Linked DNA regions of Homo sapiens: regions 1, 2, 4 and 5 are each reported to be linked to region 3. The links are microRNA targets in miRTarBase. Many come from high-throughput screens and were not tested one by one. Region 3 holds a microRNA gene; each other region holds the end of a gene's coding sequence. Distances are from middle to middle.
What was found. The annotated mature microRNA hsa-miR-4649-3p reads UCUGAGGCCUGCCUCUCCCCA and lies in region 3 at 2,002-2,022, opposite strand. An mRNA with a match to its seed (bases 2 to 7 or 8) in the 3' UTR can be bound and repressed. Matches are read on the target gene's strand: a 7mer-m8 pairs with bases 2 to 8, a 7mer-A1 pairs with bases 2 to 7 and ends in A, and an 8mer does both.

Region 1 (4,000 bases), not on the chromosome of region 3:
CCTGTGTTAGTTTGCTGAGAATGATGGTCTCCAGCTTTATCCATGTCCCTGCAAAGGACATGAACTCATCCTTTTTTATGGCTGCATAGTATTCCATGGTATATATGTGCCACATTTTCTTTATCCAGGCTATCACTGATGGGCATTTGGGTTGGTTCCAAGTCTTTGCTATTGGGAAAAGTGCTGCAATAAACATATGTGTGCAGGTGTCTTTATAGTAGGATGATTTATAATCTTTTAGGTATATACCCAGTAATGGGATCGCTGGGTCAAATGATATTTCTGGTTCTAGATCCTTGAAGAATTGCCACACTATCTTCCACAATGGTTGAACTAATTTACACTCCCACTAACAGTGTGAAAGCGTTCCTATTTCAATTTGGAGCTTTTCTTGTGATTCTACAAACTTACTTTAATAACTTCCGTTGTCTACATTTATCTGCAGAGTGACACTCTCTCTTTAGAACTTTCTGAGTTGTCACCATACTCCTCTATTTGGCCCAATTTAGAGATTGCCTGTTTAAACACAAATAAGCACTGCACAAGTTCAAGCCAGTCAGTAGCTTAATATTATTCCATAATGTTCCAAATAAGTTGATGATCTGTGTTACTTTTTTTCTTTCCTCAGGTACAAATGAATGTGCTGGCATTCAACAGACAGTTCCACTACGGTGTGTTTTATGCATATGTAAAGCTGAAGGAACAGGAAATTAGAAATATTGTGTGGATAGCAGAATGTATTTCACAGAGGCATCGAACTAAAATCAACAGTTACATTCCAATTTTATAACCCAAGTAAGGTTCTCAAATGTAGAAAATTATAAATGTTAAAAGGAAGTTATTGAAGAAAATAAAAGAAATTATGTTATATTATCTAGACTACACAAAAGTAAGCCACACTATATCTTCATGAGTTGCAAATCCATGGAAACACAGTAAACCAGCCCTGAAACAAAGCATTTCCTTGTTTTCAGTGGTATTAGATCTTGTTTCCACATGTCTGTCTCATTCTTCACTGGGCCTTACAGGTTAGTTTTAATTAACTCTATGGTATTTTTCTTATTCTTGTTTGATCATGTTAAAAATTGGACCTAATAAAAGTATTTTATTCTTGCTTTTCCATGCTTCTCTACAGGTCCAAATACTGAATGTCTCCTTTACTTTTTCTCTTTTAAATTTTTTTCTAGACAGGGTCTCACTCTGTCACCTAGGCTACAGTGCAGTGGTGTGATCACAGCTCACTGCAGCCTCGACTTCCCAGGCTCAAGTGATCCTCCCAGCTCTCAGCCTCCAAAGTAGCTGGCACTACAAGTGTACACCCCCACACAAGGCTAAGTTTTGTATTTTTTGTAGAGACAGGGTTTCAACATATTATCCAGGCTGGTGTCGAATTCCTGGGCTCCAGGGATCCACAGTCCCCCTTGGCCTCCCAAAGTGTTGGGATTACATGCATGAGCCACTGTGCTGGGCTTCATTTACATTTTAACTGTCTGTTCCTTGCCTAGATTCACAGAAATCCAAAGCTGTATGTAGTCAACATGGTTCACAAGTGTTGGAAAATGTGTTTTTTGTTTTGTTTTGTTTTGTTTCGTTTTGTTTTGAGACAGAGTTTCCCTCTGTCGCCCAGGCTAGAGTGCAATGGCGTGATCTCGGCTCACTGCAACCTCCACCTCCCAGATTCAAGCAACTCTCTGCCTCAGCCTCCCGAGTAGCTGGGATTACAAGCACCCACCACTACACTCAGCTAATTTTTTGTATTTTTAGTAGAGCCGGGGTTTCACCATCTTGGCCAGGCTGATCTTGAACTCCTGAGCTCATGATCCACCCGCCTCAGCCTCCCAAAGTGCTGGGATTACAGGCCCCTTGTTCAGCCACTGCACCTGGCCCCTTATTTTGTTTTTGTTTTCTAATATACTTTGATGTAATCAGCTTGAGAAAGCAACACAATTTCAAATCCTATCTTCTAGATGCAAGCAGTGTTAAATTTGTTAATAAATTTGCTTTTCACACCTTTCTTTAAATAAAAGGTATATCTCTCTTTCTTGTGGTTTCTTCCTTCTTTACATGAGAAGAAAATGACCTCCTTAATTGTAGTTTACTCATTCAAAAATCGCAGGTTCAGTTTTCAGGGTATGAATTATCTATTAAAATCTCAGTAGAAATGGTGCATAGAGCTACCAGGAAAAAAAAGACAACAAAGCACTGCTCAAGTCCTTCCTTTAAATATAAAACATATTAACATATTCCTAAATGTAAAATCTATATTTGCCATGTTTTAAAAAATAAACCCATATATATTTGAAAATTCTTCAAATCAGAATATGTACAGAGAGTATACAAATACTGATATCTAGAATTAGATGCATAGACCAAGGAGTAAATCAAATTTTCTTCAAAAATCTAGCTTTTTTAGTTAAATATTTTAATAATTTTAGTGATAGGAACTTTTTTGTTGTTGTTGAAACAGGGTCTTGCTCCATCACCCAGGCTGGAATGCAGTGGTGGGATCACAGGTTACTGGAGCCTCCACCTCCCAGGCTCAAGTGATCCTCCTGCCTCTCAGCCTCCCAAGTAGCTGGAACCAGAGGTGTGTGCCACCACAACTGCCTAATTTTTTTTTTCTTTTTTAAGGTAGAGACAGTGTCTCTACATGTTGCCCAGGCTGATCTCAAACTCAGGCAATCCTCCCACCTCGACTTCCCTAAGTGCTAGGATTACAGCCACAACGCCCGGCCAAAAGGAACTTTTAAGCATACAGTAAAATAGTAGCTCATAGAACCAGGAAGAAAGCCAAGTGCCTAGCCTCACATCTATGCAGGAGGCCCAGCCCACACCAGGGTCCTGTTAGTACTTGAAGTGCCCCCTGGAGGGCTCCAGTGCAGACCCATCAGCTGGAGCCAAAGCAGCCACTGACCAAGTGTGGCCCCTGGTCTGGAAAGCATCTTCCCTGCCTTGCTCAGGATGCTGTCCTTCACGGGGGGGTGGGGGGTTGGACCCAGAGACACCTCTATTGTACATTTTAACTTGTGGTTTCTGGTGATGGGTTTAAGGCTTAGGGCTCCCTTAAAGGTCGGGAGGAAAAGACACTGATGGGAAAGGGATAGCTTAAAGAAAGGCACCAAGGTGATTCTCAGACTATCCCCTTCCCACCCCACCTCTACATGATATGGGTAGGGCCCTTAATGTGCCACAAGGCTGCAGGCTGAAGTTAAATTCCCTTTCTCTGGATATAAACAGACGATTCCAATCCTTCCAACCCCTTCCTCAGCCACCCAAGAGTCCAACCATTATGTGAATACAGAAGAGAGGAACTTCCCTAATCCCTTGAGGCAAGTAGAAAGTGCACCTAGCATGGATAAGGATATATACATTGTGATTTGAAGAATTTGCCTTGAAGTTTCATAGCTTTTCAGTGGCTGAGCTGGGATCTGACTGCTTCATCATGCCTCAGGGAACTGGGCTGCAATGGAAAACATGAACCTTTGAAAAACATCTTACAAAATGAGGCCCAAAAGTTCAGATACTATACATGGAACACAGAAAACAGTGAGGCAAAGACTAATTTCTTGGGCAGGGTGCAGTGGCTCACACCTGTACTCCCAGCATTTTGGGAGGCCAAGGCAGGTGAATCACTTGAGGTCAGGCATTTGAGACCAGCCTGACCAACATGGTAAAACCCCGTCTCCACTAAAAACACAAAAATTAGCCAGGTGTGGTGACACAGGCCTGTAGTCCCAGCTACTCGGGAGGCTGAGGTGGGAGGATTGCTTGAGCCTGAGAGGCGGAGGTTGCAGTAAGTCAAGATTGGACCACTACAGTCCAGCCCGGGCCACACAGCAAGACTCCGTCTCAAAAAATAAAAAAAATTAATTTCTTGTTCTAAGTAACTGAAGCTGAGGCTCCTCACCATCCCTTCTCCACCCTCCTCCTGAACATTTCATCAGTCCCTCAAATTCCCTCCTCTATCTGCTGCAGTTGGTGTCAGAACATTATATTCCAA
Region 2 (4,000 bases), 46 Mb from region 3:
ACTTTCCATGTTTTAATTTATGGATGGAAACGAGCTTTTGAGGAAGAGTACTACAGATTTTATACACCACCAAACTTTGTTCTTGCTCTTGTTTTGCCCTCAATTGTAATTCTGGGTAAGATTATTTTATTCCTTCCATGTATAAGCCGAAAGCTAAAACGAATTAAAAAAGGCTGGGAAAAGAGCCAATTTCTGGAAGAAGGTATGGGAGGAACAATTCCTCATGTCTCCCCGGAGAGGGTCACAGTAATGTGATGACAAATGGTGTTCACAGCTGCCATATAAAGTTCTACTCATGCCATTATTTTTATGACTTCTACGTTCAGTTACAAGTATGCTGTCAAATTATCGTGGGTTGAAACTTGTTAAATGAGATTTCAACTGACTTAGTGATAGAGTTTTCTTCAAGTTAATTTTCACAAATGTCATGTTTGCCAATATGAATTTTTCTAGTCAACATATTATTGTAATTTAGGTATGTTTTGTTTTGTTTTGCACAACTGTAACCCTGTTGTTACTTTATATTTCATAATCAGGCAAAAATACTTACAGTTAATAATATAGATATAATGTTAAAAACAATTTGCAAACCAGCAGAATTTTAAGCTTTTAAAATAATTCAATGGATATACATTTTTTTCTGAAGATTAAGATTTTAATTATTCAACTTAAAAAGTAGAAATGCATTATTATACATTTTTTTAAGAAAGGACACGTTATGTTAGCATCTAGGTAAGGCTGCATGATAGCATTCCTATATTTCTCTCATAAAATAGGATTTGAAGGATGAAATTAATTGTATGAAGCAATGTGATTATATGAAGAGACACAAATTAAAAAGACAAATTAAACCTGAAATTATATTTAAAATATATTTGAGACATGAAATACATACTGATAATACATACCTCATGAAAGATTTTATTCTTTATTGTGTTACAGAGCAGTTTCATTTTCATATTAATATACTGATCAGGAAGAGGATTCAGTAACATTTGGCTTCCAAAACTGCTATCTCTAATACGGTACCAATCCTAGGAACTGTATACTAGTTCCTACTTAGAACAAAAGTATCAAGTTTGCACACAAGTAATCTGCCAGCTGACCTTTGTCGCACCTTAACCAGTCACCACTTGCTATGGTATAGGATTATACTGATGTTCTTTGAGGGATTCTGATGTGCTAGGCATGGTTCTAAGTACTTTACTTGTATTATCCCATTTAATACTTAGAACAACCCCGTGAGATAAGTAGTTATTATCCTCATTTTACACATGAGGGACCGAAGGATAGAAAAGTTATTTTTCAAAGGTCTTGCAGTTAATAAATGGCAGAGTGAGCATTCAAGTCCAGGTAGTCATATTCCAGAGGCCACGGTTTTAACCACTAGGCTCTAGAGCTCCCGCCGCGCCCCTATGCATTATGTTCACAATGCCAATCTAGATGCTTCCTCTTTTGTATAAAGTCACTGACATTCTTTAGAGTGGGTTGGGTGCATCCAAAAATGTATAAAAATATTATTATAATAAACTTATTACTGCTTGTAGGGTAATTCACAGTTACTTACCCTATTCTTGCTTGGAACATGAGCCTGGAGACCCATGGCAGTCCATATGCCTCCCTATGCAGTGAAGGGCCCTAGCAGTGTTAACAAATTGCTGAGATCCCACGGAGTCTTTCAAAAATCTCTGTAGAGTTAGTCTTCTCCTTTTCTCTTCCTGAGAAGTTCTCCTGCCTGCATAACCATTCATTAGGGAGTACTTTACAAGCATGAAGGATATTAGGGTAAGTGGCTAATTATAAATCTACTCTAGAGACATATAATCATACAGATTATTCATAAAATTTTTCAGTGCTGTCCTTCCACATTTAATTGCATTTTGCTCAAACTGTAGAATGCCCTACATTCCCCCCACCCCAATTTGCTATTTCCTTATTAAAATAGAAAATTATAGGCAAGATACAATTATATGCGTTCCTCTTCCTGAAATTATAACATTTCTAAACTTACCCACGTAGGTACTACTGAATCCAACTGCCAACAATAAAAAGACTTTTATTTAGTAGAGGCTACCTTTCCCACCAGTGACTCTTTTTCTACAACTGCCTTGTCAGTTTGGTAATTCACTTATGATTTTCTAATGTTCTCTTGGTGAATTTTATTATCTTGTACCCTCTTTTTTTTTTTTTTTTTTTTTAAAGACAGAGTCTTGCTCTGTCACCCAGGCTGGAGTGCAGTGGCACGATCTCGGCTCACTGCAAGCTCTGCCTCCCGGGTTCACGCCATTCTCCTGCCTCAGCCTCCCGAGTAGCTGGGACTACAGGTGCCCGCCACCATGCCCGGCTGATTTCTTTTTGTATTTTTAGTAGAGACGGAGTTTCACCGTGTTAGCCAGGATGGTCTCGATCTCCTGACCTCGTGATCCGCCCGCCTTGGCCTCCAAAGTGCTGGGATTACAGGTGTGAGCTACCGCGCCCGGCCTATTATCTTGTACTTTCTAACTGAGCCCTCTATTTTCTTTATTTTAATAATATTTCTCCCCACTTGAGAATCACTTGTTAGTTCTTGGTAGGAATTCAGTTGGGCAATGATAACTTTTATGGGCAAAAACATTCTATTATAGTGAACTAATGAAAATAACAGCGTATTTTCAATATTTTCTTATTCCTTAAATTCCACTCTTTTAACACTATGCTTAACCACTTAATGTGATGAAATATTCCTAAAAGTTAAATGACTATTAAAGCATATATTGTTGCATGTATATATTAAGTAGCCGATACTCTAAATAAAAATACCACTGTTACAGATAAATGGGGCCTTTAAAAATATGAAAAACAAACTTGTGAAAATGTATAAAAGATGCATCTGTTGTTTCAAATGGCACTATCTTCTTTTCAGTACTACAAAAACAGAATAATTTTGAAGTTTTAGAATAAATGTAATATATTTACTATAATTCTAAATGTTTAAATGCTTTTCTAAAAATGCAAAACTATGATGTTTAGTTGCTTTATTTTACCTCTATGTGATTATTTTTCTTAATTGTTATTTTTTATAATCATTATTTTTCTGAACCATTCTTCTGGCCTCAGAAGTAGGACTGAATTCTACTATTGCTAGGTGTGAGAAAGTGGTGGTGAGAACCTTAGAGCAGTGGAGATTTGCTACCTGGTCTGTGTTTTGAGAAGTGCCCCTTAGAAAGTTAAAAGAATGTAGAAAAGATACTCAGTCTTAATCCTATGCAAAAAAAAAAATCAAGTAATTGTTTTCCTATGAGGAAAATAACCATGAGCTGTATCATGCTACTTAGCTTTTATGTAAATATTTCTTATGTCTCCTCTATTAAGAGTATTTAAAATCATATTTAAATATGAATCTATTCATGCTAACATTATTTTTCAAAACATACATGGAAATTTAGCCCAGATTGTCTACATATAAGGTTTTTATTTGAATTGTAAAATATTTAAAAGTATGAATAAAATATATTTATAGGTATTTATCAGAGATGATTATTTTGTGCTACATACAGGTTGGCTAATGAGCTCTAGTGTTAAACTACCTGATTAATTTCTTATAAAGCAGCATAACCTTGGCTTGATTAAGGAATTCTACTTTCAAAAATTAATCTGATAATAGTAACAAGGTATATTATACTTTCATTACAATCAAATTATAGAAATTACTTGTGTAAAAGGGCTTCAAGAATATATCCAATTTTTAAATATTTTAATATATCTCCTATCTGATAACTTAATTCTTCTAAATTACCACTTGCCATTAAGCTATTTCATAATAAATTCTGTACAGTTTCCCCCCAAAAAAGAGATTTATTTATGAAATATTTAAAGTTTCTAATGTGGTATTTTAAATAAAGTATCATAAATGTAATAAGTAAATATTTATTTAGGAATACTGTGAACACTGAACTAATTATTCCTGTGTCAGTCTATGAAATCCCTGTTTTGAAATACGTAAACAGCCTAAAATGTGTTG
Region 3 (4,152 bases):
CACTCCCGGTCCGGGGGTTCCACTTGGCCCCGTTGACGATGCCCATGCCGCCGGTGTAGTCCTGGGCTTGGCAGCCTCCGCGGTAGGGCTCGGTCAAGGTGAGGTGTGCGGAGGCGAAGGAGATGGCAAGCCACCGGAAGATGGCGTGGTCTGGAGTCTCCTGGGCCTCGGAGACCTCGTCCTCATCCTCCCCCCGGGCTGCTGCCATGGCTGCGGCCAGCAGCTGCTCCTGGGTAGGCGTGCGGGCCATATCGTAGGGGTAGGATACTAGCCGCTCGCCGCCGTTCAGATTTGCTCCCAGCACGAAGGGGTTCTTCTCCATCCAGGCAATGATGGCCCGGACCTCCGTGGATACCTGGAGTGGCCAGCACGTGTGAGGCCAGGGCTGCAGCTCCGGCCACTATCCCCAACCTAGCCCGATCACCCTCCATGAAGCTTCACACCAGTACTCGCACGATCCCCTGTCCCCCAACCCCCAGAGCCTCAGCGTCTGGAGTTCAGGCACCGTCAGCCCCACCCCCAAGCCCAGAACACCAGGACCCCAGGGTCCAGCTGCTCCCTCCTGCCCTTTCAGCCAGGCTGTAGCCTCACCGTGGCATCTGGCGAAAGGTAGCGTTCAGGGATGGGCAAGTTATTGTTGGGGACCCGGTAGGGGACCCATTTCCTCTCCTCAGCTCCCCAGAGCACAGAGTTGAGATCCGGGAAATCTTCAAAGATGTCAAAGCCCTCCTCAGTCCACAGTCCCAGCGCCCAGTTCCCAAACTCTGAGCCCTGTGGGGAGCCAGCAGGGTAGGCATCGGCTACCCACACCCCCACAACCCCCAGCTGCCTGGACCCTGGCCAGCCTCACCCTTCAACCCACCATCTGCGCTGCCACCTCGTAGCCATCAGGGTTCAGTGAGGGCACCAGGTGGATGCGTGTGTCCTGCACCAGGCTGCGCACACGTGGGTTCCCATCGCGGTACTCTCGGCACAGGTACTGCATGAGCAGCAGCAACAGCTCTCGGCCCAGCACCTCGTTGCCATGGATCCCAGCAGTGTAGCGGAACTCGGGCTCCCCTGCAAGGGCGGGAGCCTCAGTGAGCACTCAGTCTCCCGAGGCCCAGGGCAGCTGAGGAAGGACCCAGACCCACCTCATACCCGAGGGTCTGGGGGACAGCTGGGGCTCCTAGGGCCCTGTAAGACAAGCCAGAATCCCCAGAGAGGCTCCGGAACAGGCGGGAGGCAGTGAGCTCTGCACATCAGCAGCAGAGGCCAGCTGCTGGCCCCCACAGACCCTCACCCAGTTCATGCTCCCCAGGGTTGTCTGAGATCTCCATGGCATAGATCTTGAGGCCTCGTGAGCTCTTGCCCAGGCTGTAAGTGCGGGTGATGGTGGGGCACTCCTCGTTCACCACCTTCATGAGCTGGGGCAGAGGGGGAGGACGTGGAATCAATCATGCAATCCGTCCCCCGCTGACCATGCCCCTTCCACTTCCAGGGCCTGCTCTATGGCGAGGGACGGGCATGACCCCTTCACGCAGCCCCCAGGTACTGGCCTCCTTCCTAAGGTGAGGGACAGCCAGCATCCCTGGAACCAGTAGGGACTGGGCCCAGTGACAGAAGCACCAGGCACACACTCCCGTCAGCCACAGACAGGTCCCACCCCCAGCCCCAGGATATATGCTCCCAACCTGGCGCATGTCCTTGTAGCTGTGGTGCCGGAAATCCAGGTCATCGGTGGCCACCACCTCATTCTGTGCGTAGTAGCTGTAGACAGCTGCAAGGGAGGCGGGGTTGTCTTTAGCTGGGTGCCGGCTGGCCCACCCTAGCACCCCACCTCCACTCAGAGCCCCTGCCAGCCCTCCACACTCACGGGCCACAGAGCACCCCAGCACCTCCAGGCGCATGCACAGGCTGCCATTCCAGGTGAGTGGGTAGATGCGGATGAAACGAGCCACCACCGGCTCTGGGAGCTCACTCAGCACGGGTGTGTCCTTGTCCACGTTCCCATGAAAGGTCTGGGGAGAGGCAGGCCTCAGAGCAGTACTGCCAGCCCCTCTGAGAGCCCACCCCTCGCCCAGACAATGGGAGCAGAGCCAAGAGCCTGGGCATGGTGCCCACCATTTCCTCATAGCCGTTGGTGTACATCACCCATGTCTGGCTGTCATTGCTGAAGCCCACGAAGAAGGTGGTCACAAAATCGTCACTGTGGAGTGGACAGTGGTCAGAGCAAGGGTCTTCCCCCTCCCAGGCCCTCAGGTGGCCTGAGCCTCCCTCTTCCGAGCCCCAAGAATTTAAGAGCTAGCAGGGTGGTGCTGCACGGCCCAGGTGTTGAGCCTGGGTCCTATGCCCGTCACATAGCCATGGGCAGGTGATCTGTCCCTAAACTCATGTGCTATCAGGACACAGGGGCTGACTGACCAGGCTGAGGAGTGGGGATGGGCAGGGTGAGTCCCTCACTGATCTTTTTGGCCTTCTTTGGCTGGGCCAAAGAAGGGCCCACTGGAATCTCCTTAATGGGACACAGAGCCATGCCTATGTAGCCACTCCCCTCTGCCAACTATCCATGAGCCTGGCCACGCACTGGATGCTGGAGTCTCTGCCCTGGGTGATGACGCCTGTGAACCGGGTAGTCCTCCTGGTGTCCACCTCTATCCACTGGGTCCTGGCATCGTCCTCGGCACACCACGCACCATCATAGTAGTCGTCCTCAGTGGCACCGGTCTGTCCAGGGGGCAGGGGAGGCTGAGCATGGGCGGAGGAGTCCCTTATCCCAGTTGGGAGATGGGCCCATCCCAATGCCCACCTGCATGTTGAGCCGGCCGCGCTGTGCCCCCAGGCCGTGGCGCAGCATGGAGGAGGCTCGGATCTGGTTGTCCTCAATACGGTGTGACTCCATCCCAATGGGGGGACACTCTGAGGACGCGTACCCCAGAATGGTGGCTCACTAGCTCCATCCTTCCCTCCACCAAACCCAGAACCAAGGAGCCCAGAGCCCACTCCCGGCACATCGGGGGCACAGTCAGAGGGCAGCTCTGGTCAGCTGGTGGCTCCCTGGTGCCCTGCACCAGCCCACCTGGAATCGACTCAAAGCCAGGCCAGGAGCTGTTTCCAATCCCAGCCTGTGCTTCCCCTCCCTGGGCCTCAGCTGCCCCATCTGGAGAACGGGCTGACCATGCCCAGCTCTCAGGGGACACACGTGAAATCACAGGTAGAGCTCCCCCAGGGCGCAGCCACAGATGTCATCCAGATGGGGACCGTCTGCACAATGGCCCTGCAGGGATACCTGTGAAGGTACCTGAGGTCCTCACTCCCCACCAAGGCCCCAGGTCCTCCCCCTACCACGCCCAGCCACTAGGGGCCCTGGGGAGCTGCCACCCTCCTGAAGCAGGCCAGCCTGGGGTCCAGGGCTGGGGCAGCCAAGCGAGGCTATCCTGGGCTCCCGGGGCCCCTCCCTTCTGGGTCCCAAGAATCTGAGTAGGAAAGGGTTCCGGGGACCTGGGTCCTGTTTGTGACATTGGGCCAGTCACTTGTCCCAGCACCCCCATCCTGTGGCCCCCACCCTCACCCCCTTGTGCCCCCCACTTACTGACTTTCTCCGTAGGCGTCCACTCCTCCTCCAACTCCTCGCCCTTTCGGGGCTCTAGGGACAATGAAGGGAGGACATGGCACCAAGGGCCCGGGAGGCAATCAGGAGTCCAGATGCTGCCCCACAGGGACCCAGGCCCCAAGCCCCAGCCACACACCTTTGTGGTCCTTGCCCTTCTCCACTGCCCACTTGTCGGTCTCCTCCTTGGGGCTGCTGTCCTCCTTTTTGGGTTTCTCTGGAAGGTGCAAGGTAGGAGGGGCCAGTCAGCCTGGCTCTGGGCTTTGAGGACCATGTGGGGTGGATCAGGCAGGCCCCAGGTGGCCTTCAGGGCAGGCCTGGTGTGGGAAGTCCTTGGTCCCACTCACTCAGCTCCTCCTTCTCTTCGTCTGTCTGGCGCTCAGCATCGGGCTTCTGGGGCGGAGGAGGCCCAAAGTAATAGTCCACTATGGGGAGGGAGAGCCAGCTGAGGCTGCCCTGACCCTGCTGCGGGGCCTCAGCTCCTGGGTCCACAGGAGCTCAGCAGGACAGGACCGCGCCAGAGGGGAGGAGGACGGGAGATGGGGGACAGCTGAGTTGGGAGA
Region 4 (4,000 bases), not on the chromosome of region 3:
AGGAAGTCACTTGGAGCCATCCTGGCTCAAGTTCAAGCGCTGGTCCCATCACTCATTTTTGACCTCTCATTATTTGAATAAAGGGGTCTTAATTCATATTCATAAGTGATGTGTACTGCCAGATACACACCTATAATCAGCACTTTGGAAGGCTGAGGCAGGAGGATTGTTTGAGCCTAGGAATTTGAGGGTGCAGTGAGCTATGATTGTGCCACTAAATTCCAGCTTTGGTGACAGAGCCGAGACGCTGTCTTTTAAAAAAGTGACATGTACATAATGCCTGGCATCTAGCAGTGACAGCACAGGCTTGGAGAGGAACTTGAGTCCAAGGCTCGAGCACTGTGGCTTATTGAGTGAGTCCCCTATAAGGTGCCTGACTCCCCAGGGTGGAGACTGCAGGGTAAGAGTGAACAGGTCAACAGTCCCTGCCTGCAAGCACCTTACAGCTAAGGGATAGAATCATTTGGCCCTTGAGTCCAGTCACCCTGTCTGAGTTCATTCAGCATGTTCACTTGTGTTTGCCAGGCACTGGGGCCACAAGGGCACATCATTCTATACTCTGTTCTGCAAGGCTCACCAAGGGCAGGAGAATCTGCCCAACCTTGGATGCCAAGGCCAGGCCCGCCTCTCGTCCCTTCTCTTCCCAGGCCCCCCCGGCCTGCCACTTCAGTCAACTCCACTGAGGAGACTGCCACTACAGTTGTTGCTGCTGCCTCCTCCACCAGCATCCCTAGCTCAGAGGCCACGACCCCAACCCCAGGAGCCTCCCCACCAGCCCCTGAAATGGAAAGGCCTCCAGGTAGGTGTGATTGGCCTCCAGCCGGGGGAGCAGGGAACTTCTCTAGGTTCCACTTCCAGTCTCTCTGTCCCCAGCTCCTGAGTCAGTGGGCACAGAGGAGATGCCTGAGGATGGAGAGCCCGATGCAGCAGAGCTCCGCCGGCGCCGCCTGCAGAAGCTGGAGTCTCCTGTTGCCCACTGACACTGCCCCAGCCCAGCCCCAGCCTCTGCTCTTTTGAGCAGCCCTCGCTGGAACATGTCCTGCCACCAAGTGCCAGCTCCCTCTCTGTCTGCACCAGGGAGTAGTACCCCCAGCTCTGAGAAAGAGGCGGCATCCCCTAGGCCAAGTGGAAAGAGGCTGGGGTTCCCATTTGACTCCAGTCCCAGGCAGCCATGGGGATCTCGGGTCAGTTCCAGCCTTCCTCTCCAACTCTTCAGCCCTGTGTTCTGCTGGGGCCATGAAGGCAGAAGGTTTAGCCTCTGAGAAGCCCTCTTCTTCCCCCACCCCTTTCCAGGAGAAGGGGCTGCCCCTCCAAGCCCTACTTGTATGTGCGGAGTCACACTGCAGTGCCGAACAGTATTAGCTCCCGTTCCCAAGTGTGGACTCCAGAGGGGCTGGAGGCAAGCTATGAACTTGCTCGCTGGCCCACCCCTAAGACTGGTACCCATTTCCTTTTCTTACCCTGATCTCCCCAGAAGCCTCTTGTGGTGGTGGCTGTGCCCCCTATGCCCTGTGGCATTTCTGCGTCTTACTGGCAACCACACAACTCAGGGAAAGGAATGCCTGGGAGTGGGGGTGCAGGCGGGCAGCACTGAGGGACCCTGCCCCGCCCCTCCCCCCAGGCCCCTTTCCTCTGCAGCTTCTCAAGTGAGACTGACCTGTCTCACCCAGCAGCCACTGCCCAGCCGCACTCCAGGCAAGGGCCAGTGCGCCTGCTCCTGACCACTGCAATCCCAGCGCCCAAGGAAGGCCACTTCTCAACTGGCAGAACTTCTGAAGTTTAGAATTGGAATTACTTCCTTACTAGTGTCTTTTGGCTTAAATTTTGTCTTTTGAAGTTGAATGCTTAATCCCGGGAAAGAGGAACAGGAGTGCCAGACTCCTGGTCTTTCCAGTTTAGAAAAGGCTCTGTGCCAAGGAGGGACCACAGGAGCTGGGACCTGCCTGCCCCTGTCTTTTCCCCTTGGTTTTGTGTTACAAGAGTTGTTGGAGACAGTTTCAGATGATTATTTAATTTGTAAATATTGTACAAATTTTAATAGCTTAAATTGTATATACAGCCAAATAAAAACTTGCATTAACAATTGGTGGGGTTTGTGTCACAGAATCGATCAAATCAGTGTCGGGCTCCTTGCTGTGGCTGTACACTTGAAAATGGAATGGAATCTCCAGGAGTGAGGGTTTCCATGGAAGCCAGCACTATCCTTGGGGACACCACTGACCATTAACAGATTAGGAAGATGTGCCCATTTTACACACAGAGAAGCAGCCCAGAGTTCAGTGCCCTGCTTCAGGGCAGAGACCAAGTTGGGGAGTCAGGAACTGAAAGCTGTCTTAGCCAGTTTGGGGGCAGGGTGGGGTCTCAGGCCTTTGGCCCCTGTGACTCCAAGTATAAGGCATATATGAAGGCTAGTGAGCTGGGGTTGGGATGGGATGGCAGGGTGAAAGGTCAGCATATTCCTGCCTGCAAACCCCTCCCCAGCCTTGATTGCAGGTCAGAAGGCTGCAGGGGGATGTCCCTATGCTGGCTGTGAGTTCCCAGCCACTCCCTTGTGGTCAGGCCAGCAAGTCTGGTCTGCAATGGAACAGTGACCAAGAACGTGCCTCCTACCTCTCTATCAGAGCCCGGGGCTAACGTGGGCACTCTGTGCCCCAGTGCCAGCACTGTACTTTGAACAGAAGATCTCCAAGACCCATGCCCGAGTCATCTGTGTTCTCCATCACCTGCACCAAACAAGATCTGGCCTAGAGCAAAGGCTTGGGGGTATTTGCAACAGTGAGCTTCGGAGGGCCAAGGAAACAAAGTGCCCAGTGGCTCTGCCCTGTGCTACCTTCCCCTAAACTGGGGTTGGGCTACTGCTTCCACCAAATAACAACTAGAATTTGAATTGCTGAGCCCAAGGAAAGAAAAACAAAACAGGCCAAGGTGGACCAGGCACATGGCTCATGCCTATAATCCCAACGCTTTGGGAGGCCAAGGTGGGCGGATCACTTCGAGTCAGGAGTTTGAGACCAGCCTGGCCAACATGGTGAAACCCCATCTCTACTAAAAATACAAAAATTAGCAGGCTGTGGTGGTGGGCGCCTGTAATCCCAGCTACTCAAGAGGCTGAGGCAGGAGAATCCCTTGATCCCAGAGGTGGAAGTTGCAGTGAGCCAAGATCATGCCACTGCACTCCACCCTGGGCAACAGAGTGAGACTCCGTCTCAAAAAACAAAAAAGAACAGGCCAAGATAGGAGGGAGAGAAAGCTGCTGACGCCCCCCATTAGCCTGGTGATCCCTATTTGGTCTCCCACATTAGGCACTCTCCCCCAGCATGTACATAGAGTTGTTTTCTCCTTTATGCAAGCAAGGCCTGACCCCAAAGTCCTTTAGCCCTAGTTTCTGTATCCCCTGTCTCAGGGGCTCCAACACCCACCTCCCTCCTCCTGAGGCCCCCTAGACTTGATCCACAGGGCATGCTGACAAGCAGGCTGCTCGGCTGGGCCTCAGAAGCCTTTCTCCAAGAGCCAGGCTTTAAGCTCCTGGTCAAAGTAGCCCTTGATCCGTAGGGTACCTGTCACCTCATTGACCTGGGTGACAGGTGTCTTCCCCAGCAGCGGGCTCAGAAAATCTTCCACGTCTTTCTGCAGGGCCTGGGGAAAGATGACAAATCAGGTCAGGCCAAGAGTCCCTTCCCTTAAAAAGACTCCTGTCCCTTCAGCCCTGAAAGGGTCAGGCCCAGTCCCAGACCCACCCACCCACTTACCCAGATGTCCCCTTCCACTTTCCGGATCACAGTCATCTGCCGGTTGCCATGCGTGATGTCCTTGTAGACGGGGATGTTGTGCATCCGAGAGCGTCGTACAAAGTAAGGCAGGTTGGGTGGGGGGTCTGCAACAGGGAAAGACACTGTTAAATCAACTCTTCCTACGTGCCATCCCACCTCAGCCAAGGCCCTTGCTCTCAGTCTGCAGAGGGCCAGTGCACCCAGCTGGACCAAGCCACCTCCAGACTTTA
Region 5 (4,000 bases), not on the chromosome of region 3:
AATAAATACAGTGTATCATTATTTTAAAGACATGTTTAGGGAAAAAACCAGCTTCTCTTCCCCTTAAAGTTATTGGTGGTGGGAGGGCAAGAGAGGAAGAGATGGCAGCTTTTTAAGTGAAATTTTAATCTTATCTATCTTTTGTTCATTTTGAGTCCCCAAATAAAATATTTCTGTACTTTAATTTCTTAATCACTATTGTCAGCTTGGTTGCTACACATTTAATTACAATATAAAGTTGACATTGAGGATGAAGAAACTTAATTATACTTTTTCTTATTTCTATTTAACCAATAAGATTTTAATAGCAAATTAGAACAAGATTTTACCTCCTTAATAACTAATGGTTAGATAAAGTAGAATTTGTATCAAGTAACTCGGATTTCAGATTTCTGGATGTACCAGTTACTATGCTACTGAGGAGATACATCTAGTTGATGAAGTTAAAATATTAATTACTACTCCAGTTATATGAAACCAAATTATTTTGAGAAATTATCTTATTTTGCCAGGCGCGGTGGCTCATGCCTGCAATCCCAGCACTTGGGGAGTCTGAGGCGGGCAGATCATGAGGTCAGGAGCTCAAGACCAGCCTGACCAACAAGGTGAAACCCCGTCTCTACTAAAAATACAAAAATTAGCCAGGTGTGGTGGCACGCACCTGTAATCCCGTCTACTTGGGAGGCTGAGGCAGGAAAATTGCTTGAACCAGGAGGCAGAGGTTGTAGTGAGCCAAGATCTTGCTACTGCACTCCAGCCTGGGTGACAGAGGGAGACTCCATTTCCAAAAAAAAAAAAAAGAAATTAATTATCTCATTTCGATGTAGTAAAAAAAAAATTTTCTTTAACATTCTTCATAAAATGTGATTAAGGCTATTAAATATAAAGCTTGGATGAGGGTGCAGATAATTTTACAAAACAGCTGTATTTTGGCAAATATTTTATTATTATAAATGAAAATACAGAGTTTTAAAACGGCACTTAATCTGTTCTCTCTCTCAGAGTCTGCCAAATAAATCAGATTTCTTGGAAAATATTCAAACTTGATACAATGGAGGCAAAATTAACTCTTGTCAGGTAAGTCATTTGCCATAAACGAAAGGACCCATAACTGCATTAAGCAGAGAGGGACTGACTGTCAATGAAGCTTCTCTATTTGCAATTTATTCAGCAAAAGCGAACAATTTTTAAAAAGTCTCTAATGCAAAATTTAGTTCAAGTATCAAAGGTCTGATCAATTTTAAAAGGCATTAGTTTTATTTTTAATAAATTGAACTGGCCTTAGATGAAAGATATAGTTCTGTTCACATATTTTATACATTATTTACAGAGAAATGAAAAATCCTGCTGCCTTTGTTATCACTTGTCATTTGCGAAATTCTTACTAAAATAAAAGAAAATGGAAAGATAATTTGACCTCTGACTTCCAGGAGAATGTTCAGGCCACATCTAAAATTTACCAAAGAATGGGGAAAAAACTTTTTTCAAGTTGGAAGGTACCAGAGTGATTAGCTGGTCTAACCTACTCATTTTACAGATTAGAAAACTGAGATATGGCCGGGCGCGGTGGCTCACGCCTGTAATCCCAGCACTTTGGGAGGCCGAGGCGGGCGGATCACGAGGTCAGGAGATCGAGACCATCCCGGCTAAAACGGTGAAACCCCGTCTCTACTAAAACTACAAAAAATAGCCGGGCGTAGTGGCGGGCGCCTGTAGTCCTAGCTACTTGGGAGGCTGAGGCAGGAGAATGGCGTGAACCCGGGAGGCGGAGCTTGCAGTGAGCCGAGATCCCGCCACTGCACTCCAGCCTGGGCGACAGAGCGAGACTCCGTCTCAAAAAAAAAAAAAAAAAAAAAAAGAAAACTGAGATACAAGGTCTTGAGATGCGGCAAATTACTCAACTCTTCCTTGTATTGTAATTAAACTGAGACTAACACCAAGTCTCTTGCTGTTGTTGCCAATTCTTTTCTCTGAACCGCACTTTGTACATCCTCCACCAAGATTAAGAATCATTACCTATGGGAAAAGGGGTGGGCATCAGGAAGAAAAAAAGATAACGGGTGGGAGTGGGGGAATGTGGGATAATGTTAGGAATGCTGTATTCAACGATGAGCCATATGTATTAATACATAATTTCTTAAGAAAAATAATTTTTTTAAAAAATCAAACCTTAACATTAACAGAACCAAATTGCAAAGATCAGAAATACCAAAGTGAAACTGAATGTTAGTACTGAAATTTAAGCTACATTTAAAAAAAAAAGGCTGTCAAACCAATGAAAACTAGATTTCAGTGTCTGTCTCCTTTTAGTGACTAGTTCTATATATTATGTTTCTCTATATCTGGAAAAATGTTCTTAATATAATACACGTGCAGTCTGAAGTAATTTCAGTTCTCAAGTTTATGAAAGGATTGGGTTTAAAAAAATACTACAAAAATATGCACTTATATTTCCAAAATTATGTATTTCTAACCTCTGCAGTGATATAAGGTCCAAATTTTCACCGTTGAACCGCCTTCTTGCATGGTGTTAAACAGTTATTTCTACAGAGCAGATATAATTTGCATAAATCTTTTTTTTTGGGATGGAGTCTCACTCTGTCGCCCAGGCTGGAGTGCAGTGGCGTGATCTTGGCTCACTGCAAGCTCCACTTCCCGGGTTCACGCCATTCTCCTGTCTCAGCCTTCCCAGTAGCTGGGACTACAGGCACCCTCCACCACGCCCAGCTAATTTTTGGTATTTTTAGTAGAGAGGGGTTTCACCGTGTTAGCCAGGATGGTCTCGATCTCCTGACCTCGTGATCCGCCCGCCTTGGCCTCCCAAAGTGTTGGGATTACAGGCGTGAGCCACCGCGCCTGGCCAATTTGCATAATTCTTTACAGTAAAACCCATTCAGAAATAGTAACTACTTGTATCTACCATCAGAGCTGAAAGAAACAGATTTCGTTAAAAAAAAGTATAGGGGTGGGTCAAGGCATTTTTTTTTAGAAAAATATACTGTATATAGTACATCTCGGAAACTACACAGACCATATGTTTTATTTAATGTGAAGGCACAACTTTAACATTAAAAGCAAAGCGTTTTAGTTATTTATGATGTAACTGTCAGTACCAGCTCATAAAAATATATTTTTGCAAGCATATCATTGAAGACTCTTTCAGATTGTCAATTCAAAAGTCAATTTAAAAAGTCGAAGTCTATTTGTAGAAAATCAATGACACATTATAGCAGTTCCACATAATATTATTGCTGGACAATCTGTTCACCAGATATCACAGGGTTTTCTTCATTTGTTGCACAATCCAAATGGTCCATCATCTAGGCATAAATAAAAGACGTTAGGAAATGCAAAATTTCAACTTGCCCCCAATATTCACTACATTAGCAAAAGGATTCTTTTTCTAAAAAACACAGATTGCTCTATGAAACTGAGCACTCCTTCTGGAGCACTGTTCTGGTTCAACATCCACACTTCTAAGGAGATAGTCAGGGTGACACTGAACCTCTCAGGAAGCCTAATCACATGACTCAAAGCCAATTTGTGTTCTCTGGATCTTCCGTTATCTCCATTTCCCAATATGAATACTGCCCTTCATGGCAGTGAGAACTCCAGAACAAAAGGAAGATATTCCTGACACTTATTCCAGGACACTATTCCAGGCAGTGTCCAATCATACAAATGGGAAAACTAAAAATGGCCTCATGAGTCACTGTGAGAATACCTGCTGACTCTGGGACAGTGTGATATTATTGACACCTTGAAATAACCGTAAGATAATTTAAACTTTGGAAACATTATAATAATTTCTACAAAAAATGAACTTGAGGTCATATGATATCTGAAAACAAAACCAAGAATACATTTGCTAGGCCGGGCGCAGTGGCTCACACCTGTAATCCCAGCACCTTGGGAGGCTGAGATGGGCAGATCATGAGGTCAGGAGTTCGAGACCAGCCTGGCCAAGATGGTGAAACCCCGTCTCTAATAAAAATACAAA

Region 1: miRTarBase lists ATP6V0D2 as a target of hsa-miR-4649-3p. Seed matches in the 3' UTR shown: 7mer-m8 at 1,694-1,700 and 7mer-m8 at 1,828-1,834.
Region 2: the mRNA of STEAP2 is a reported target of hsa-miR-4649-3p. Seed matches in the 3' UTR shown: 7mer-m8 at 2,294-2,300 and 8mer at 3,090-3,097.
Region 4: the mRNA of MRPL49 is a reported target of hsa-miR-4649-3p. Seed matches in the 3' UTR shown: 7mer-m8 at 3,430-3,436 and 7mer-m8 at 3,109-3,115.
Region 5: the mRNA of SPPL2A is a reported target of hsa-miR-4649-3p. Seed matches in the 3' UTR shown: 7mer-m8 at 1,735-1,741, 7mer-m8 at 686-692 and 8mer at 552-559.

What each region holds. Positions count from the first base shown.
Region 1 is chr8:86,152,188-86,156,187 of GRCh38, forward strand. It overlaps ATP6V0D2 (ATPase H+ transporting V0 subunit d2), which reads left to right. Exons shown (of 8, transcript NM_152565.1): 8 at 629-2,038. The coding sequence ends at 790. Among named protein-coding and RNA genes, the nearest start is that of ATP6V0D2, 55 kb to the left of the region's middle.
Region 2 is chr7:90,232,370-90,236,369 of GRCh38, forward strand. It overlaps STEAP2 (STEAP2 metalloreductase), which reads left to right. Exons shown (of 6, transcript NM_001244944.2): 6 at 1-4,000. The coding sequence ends at 255. Among named protein-coding and RNA genes, the nearest start is that of CFAP69, 11 kb to the right of the region's middle. RefSeq lists a silencer at 2,191-2,396.
Region 3 is chr7:44,108,761-44,112,912 of GRCh38, reverse strand. It overlaps MIR4649 (microRNA 4649), which reads right to left and starts at 2,064; the gene lies at 2,001-2,064. It overlaps AEBP1 (AE binding protein 1), which reads right to left. Exons shown (of 21, transcript NM_001129.5): 7 at 3,937-4,014; 8 at 3,729-3,806; 9 at 3,572-3,625; 10 at 2,789-2,898; 11 at 2,567-2,706; 12 at 2,104-2,188; 13 at 1,856-2,000; 14 at 1,674-1,759; 15 at 1,283-1,406; 16 at 863-1,059; 17 at 592-771; 18 at 4-355.
Region 4 is chr11:65,125,362-65,129,361 of GRCh38, reverse strand. It overlaps MRPL49 (mitochondrial ribosomal protein L49), which reads right to left. Exons shown (of 4, transcript NM_004927.4): 3 at 3,750-3,874; 4 at 1,991-3,636. The coding sequence ends at 3,490. It overlaps SYVN1 (synoviolin 1), which reads left to right. Exons shown (of 16, transcript NM_172230.3): 15 at 648-799; 16 at 874-2,083. The coding sequence ends at 980. Among named protein-coding and RNA genes, the nearest start is that of MIR6751, 2.6 kb to the left of the region's middle.
Region 5 is chr15:50,704,555-50,708,554 of GRCh38, forward strand. It overlaps SPPL2A (signal peptide peptidase like 2A), which reads right to left. Exons shown (of 15, transcript NM_032802.4): 15 at 1-3,320. The coding sequence ends at 3,246. Among named protein-coding and RNA genes, the nearest start is that of TRPM7, 20 kb to the left of the region's middle.